2 separate regions of the Homo sapiens genome follow, and region 2 is linked to region 1. A link means that fine-mapping ties the variant in region 1 to the expression of a gene that starts in the linked region. Tissue or cell type: whole blood. Region 1 holds a variant in brackets; the other region holds the start of a gene. All regions are shown on one strand. Distances are from middle to middle.

The links. PIP is the estimated chance that this variant, and not a neighbour inherited with it, causes the effect.
Region 2: it holds the start of EMID1, and the variant in region 1 is fine-mapped to the expression of EMID1 in whole blood (INTERVAL, PIP 0.95).

The regions. Positions count from the first base shown.
Region 1 is chr22:29,156,930-29,159,756 of GRCh38, forward strand. It overlaps a transcript of KREMEN1 not described here. Among named protein-coding and RNA genes, the nearest start is that of EMID1, 48 kb to the right of the region's middle. The variant T/C (reference allele first, on the strand shown) is at 1,130.
Region 2 is chr22:29,204,620-29,207,119 of GRCh38, forward strand. It overlaps EMID1 (EMI domain containing 1), which reads left to right and starts at 1,277. Exons shown (of 15, transcript NM_133455.4): 1 at 1,277-1,520. The coding sequence starts at 1,420. LOC101929638 (a long non-coding RNA gene) reads right to left here and starts at 1,213. Exons shown (of 5, transcript XR_938134.3): 1 at 852-1,213; 2 at 541-702. RefSeq lists silencers at 1,372-1,461, 1,472-1,631, 1,652-1,711.

The sequences.
Region 1 (2,827 bases):
AAAGCCTGTGCTGCCATCACTTAATCCTGGGTGGATAACATCTCTTCTTCAGACAGGTGTTCCTAGACCAAGGTCATCCTGCTGGTAAGTGGGGGTAAAGATGGACTGAACCCTTTTTACAACTTTGAAGCCACACCTGCCCATCCCCACATATTCATATTGGAAAACTCTTTCCAGAGGGTTATCATCTTCAGGCTTCTACAAACTATGCCAAGTCAGAGGAGCCGACCTGTGGGGGCTCCACGCAAAGATTACAGTCAGGTCTTCCCTTGGATGTAGCCAGAGACAGCTGAGAGCTGTCCCCTGGACCAGAATTCCATCATGAGAGGCTGGGGGATTGCCTTCTTTCCAGTGGGGGAGCCGAGGCCCAGAGAGCAGAATTCGTGTCCAAGGCCCCACCATGACTTTGTTTTTCGTTGTGGTTTGAGATGGAGTCTCGCTCTTGTTGCCCAGGCTGGAGTGCAATGGCACGATCTCAGCTCACTGCAACCTCCACCTCCTGGGTTCAGGTGATTCTCCTGCCTCAGCCTCCCGAATAGCTGGGATTACAGGCATGTGCCACCACGCCCAGCTAATTTTTGTATTTTTAGTAGAAATGGTGTTTCACCATGTTGGCCAGGCTGGTCTCGAACTCCTGGCCTCAAGTGATCCACCTGCCTCGGCCTCCCAAAGTGCTGGGATTACAGGTGTGAGCCACCACATCCAGCCCCCACCATGACTTTGCCTCTGTGGCCAATGTCATGTCCATGGCTGCACGGAGCTTCCTGAAAACACGGAGGCTGGTGGCAAGGACCCGCCTTGGAAAATGGGGAGAAAGCCAATCCCCCTAGATACATCCCCTGAGCCCTTGGGCTGGGAGAAGGGCATTGTGTAGCCTCTAAGGGAGACTACAAAGTAAGAAGGGATTGCTTCCATCTTGTCATTCCACCATCTGTGTCACAAACAGGCAGGTCAGGGGAGCAAACATGGCAGAGGGACATGGCCTAGGAGTCCTGTACTTCATTTTCCCTCACATTTCATTGTCTGTTACAGGTCACATGGTCTCACCTGGATGCAAAGGCCACTGGGAAATGTAGTCTTCCAGTGGGCCAGGAGTTGTGTACAATGAAATTAGCGAATATATAGCCTG[T/C]CTCTGCCACACTATTCAAAAACTCGTAGTCATGTCAGGGCCCAGAATGCCTTGAGATTGTTGCTCAGCACATGAGAGCATGAGGCTGGAGAAGTGGGCTGGCCCAGTGTGAGAAACACGGGTAAAACACGGGGTACCAATTTGCAATCTAGCCCCATGTGGTCCAGGTTCCTCACGTGCAGCCAGCCATGGCAGTAGAGGGACAAAATGATGCCGGAGCAAGAGACAGAGTCCCCCAGATGAATGTCAAGGGAAACCCAATAGCCCTGAAGACATCAAGGGGAGGCCACGCCAGCCAAGATTCCTGGCTCACTTTGCAGAAAAGAGGATGTAAGAGGGCACTGGGGAAGGAAAAGGGAGAACAGCGGAGAGGCGCCGACATGGGGCACGGGGAATTCTAGGGAAACTGGGCCTGGAGGGCTGGAAAAGTCTCTGCCACCAGCAGGGCAGCTTCATGGATGTGCAGCCTCCACAGTCACACAGAGCCCATCCTCACAAAGGCCCCACATTTGGCCCTAGCTGTCACTGTCTTGAAATTCTTAATCATTTTCCAAGAAGGGGCCCCATATTTTTATTTTGCACTGGGCCTCACAAATTACAAAGTCAGTCCTGAGTCCAGAAGGGATCAGTCTTGGTTCCAGATGGCCCCACCTCCAGGGCATGGCTGTGGCTGATGGTTATTTGCCAGCCTAGTGGGAGACCAAGACCACAGGAAATGGGTCTGGAAGATGATCGGCAGTAGTGGTCAGCTCAAGAGTGTTGATTTTTTGTTTTGTTTTTGTTTTTTGAGACGGAGTCTCAGTCTGTTGCCCAGGCTGGCTCACTGCTCAGCTCGCTGCAACCTCCGCCTCCTGGGTTCAAGCGATTCTCCTGCCTCAGCCTCCCAAGTAGCTGGGATTACATGCAGCTGCCACCAAGCTGGGCTAATTTTTGTATTTTTAGTAGAGACAGGGTTTCTCCATGTTGGCCAGAGCTGGTCTCGAACTCCTGACCACAAGTGATCCACCTGCCTTGGCCTCCTAAAGTGCTGGGATTACAGGCATGAGCCACGGTGCCCAGCCAAGTGTTTTTTTTTTTTTTTTTTTTTTTTAGAGACAGGATCTCACTTCGTTGCCCAGGCTGGTCTCGAACTCCTGGGCTCAAGTGATCCTTCCTCCTTGGCCTCCCAAAGTGCTGGGATTTCAGGCATGAGCCACTGCACCCAGCCAGCCCAGGAGTGTTTTGCTCCTTAATGTTCTCAGGTGTAAACATTCAGGAAGCAAAAACAAAACAAAACCAAAGGCCAGGAGCGGTGGCTGATGCCTGTAATCCCAGCTCTTTGGGAGGTTGAGGCGGGTGGATCTTGAGGTCAGGAGTTCGAGACCAGCCTGACCAACATGGTGAAACCCTATCTCTACTAAAAATACAAAAATTAGCCAGGTGTGGTGGCGCACGCCTGTAATCCCAGCTACTCAGGAGGCTGAGGCAGGAGAATTGCATGAACCCAGGAGACGGAGGTTGCAGTGAGCCGAGATCACGTCACTGCACTCCAGCCTGGGCAACAGAGCGAGACTCTGTCTAAAAAATAAAAAACAAAAACAAAAATAAATAAATAAACAAACATTCAGGAAGCACAGGTTTCAGACTCTCCTTGCTAAGGAGCAAGACTGGTCAGAAACAGGTGCTTACTGGTGAGAGATTTTTCACAAACAGAGAACG
Region 2 (2,500 bases), 48 kb after region 1:
GACAGGGCAACAGCTTTCTCTATGTGGACACACTGGTGATGGATCCCCCGTCCTGCCTGCCTGCCTGCCTATGGTGGCCTATGCTGCCTGCCCCTGGTGAGTCCAGGAGGGGCAATCCAGTGACTGGCAGATCCTTTCTGGGGAGTGTTTCTAGAAGGGACCGTGGGTCTGGACAAGCCATAACAGGAAGTAGCCAAGCTGGGCAAGGGCTTCCCCAGCCCAGGCCTAACTACTGCCCATCGATCCAGGCAGAAGGCGGGGTTAGAGACTGCCCTGGGAGATTGGGGGTCTGGGTCCCCTCTGATGAGAGCTCTGGTCTCTCCCTATAAACACACACTCCTATCACAGACACACACATAACACACATGCACATAAATCCACATCAAGCATGCACACACATCCATCATACACACATACGACACACACATGCACCCCTGCACACACACACTACGCTTACATATACCTTTGTGGGATGTAGAGCCATTCCTCCAGAAGCCCATCCATGTACCCCAGATGAAACCACCCAACACCAATTCTTACCTTGTTACATATGGTGAAATCAAGGCATAGACCGAAGTGCTGTGGTTAAGAGCTGTTACTCTCCGAAGTCAGGCGATCTGGGTACAAATCCTGGCTCTGCCAAACCCCTGCCACGGTGCTTTAGGTAAATGACAGCTCCTTTCTGTGGCTTAGTTTCTCCACCTGTAAAATGAGAATAAGAACAGACTCTGCACTTATGGGGTCAGCCCAGATCTCCTCCTAGGGAGACTGCGAGTGCCTGGGCCTCAGTTTTCTCTTCTGTAAAATGGGGATATTGTGCCCAGTTCGAGCAGAGTGGCTTGAAGAGTCACCTGAGATAGGATGTGAAGTGGCCGCGGTGAGGTGCCCAATACACGTGGCGCGCACTGCTCAGGAAGCTTTCCTTGGAGGGCTGGATCCCGCAAAGGTGTCGAAAAAGGATGAGTCCCGGATATCATTCGCTCAGGTGAGGTGGGTTCGGGTCCCGGCTGCGTCTGGGACCGTGGCCCGGGCCTCAGTTTCCCAGTCTACAGCCCGTGGGAGGACACCTCGGAGCTGGCACCCCGCCCCCAAAAGGGCCCCGCGGCGCAGGGCGTGGGGCTCAGGTGGACACCTGGCGGGCCTCCTGGCGGGGGCGCCCTGGCCGCCCGGGCCCCTCCGGGCTCCTTCCGGGTTGGCAGCGGCGGCGCAGGGGGCGGGGGGCAGCGCAGAGGGGCCGGGCGAGGCCGGGAGCGCGCGCCCCCGCCCCCGCCCGCCCGCCTCCTGCCCGCCCTCCGGCCGCGGAGCTGGAAACCGGGCTCCGCGCGTCCGGGGCGGCTGGCGGCGCGGGCAGGCAGGCGGGGAGGACAGGCTGGGGGCGGCGACCGCGAGGGGCCGCGCGCGGAGGGCGCCTGGTGCAGCATGGGCGGCCCGCGGGCTTGGGCGCTGCTCTGCCTCGGGCTCCTGCTCCCGGGAGGCGGCGCTGCGTGGAGCATCGGGGCAGCTCCGTTCTCCGGACGCAGGTAAGAGCTCCCGGCGCCTTTGCACCCCGCTGGCCGAGGGTCCCGGCGCGCACACGCCCCCACCTCCAGGAAGGGCTGGGATTGGAGGGCGATCCAGTCCCCAGCCCGGGTGAGGGCAGGGACACGGCCATCCCGCGGTCCGGCTGAGGCTCCCGCGAGTGCGGGGTCCCCTACTCCATGTGTCGGAGCTGGCTGCCTCCCCTACTCCCTCCCTTTCAACCCAGGAGCTCGAGAGGAGGGGGAAGGGGCGCAACGAGGGCGAAGCCCTGGCCCTTCTGTTCCCCTGTCCCTAGGGCCCCTCCCCCTGCACTTGGGAAAGGCCTATGACACCCCCTAGCCGACTCTTCTCGGACCCTCTCTCCCCTTTTCCCTGTTCCTGTTTTTTTGCTTTGTTTTGTTTTTTGTTTGTTTGTTTTGTACCCAGGCTATTTATCTCCCTCGGAGGAGGGACTGGGGTGGAGTCTCACAGCCCAGTGGGTCAGTGTCGGAGATACCCCAGGGACCTGGCATTTTGGACAGAGAAAAGAGGGAGCACAGTCTTCCTTCTGCTCTCCTAGCGGCGGGGAACCTCCTCCCTGCTGGCCTTTACGGAGGAGCTCCCAGAACCTGACATGGTGGGGCCCATTATTATATATAGTGTCCTCATCAATCCTTGAAGGACCGAATGAGGTAGGGAAAACTGTCCCCATTCAACGGTTAAGCAAACTGAGACCCTAGGGAATTGGCATCATCTTTTAGCCTCATGGGCTATTCACTGAAGAGCTAGGTTGCAAATCTGCCCTTCTATCCTTGATGACAGTGTTTGAACCTGTCCTGGCCTCTGTCCTGGCTGCAGCCCCAGCGAGGGTCCCCTCCTAAAGGCCAGCCGCCGTTGTCCAAGGCAGACAATGTGGAGTAGCCAGGCCTCTCCAGGCCTTTTCATCCCATTCAAAGGCCTGCGCGGCCCCCACCCCCTACGGCCTCAATTCTTTAATTCTTTT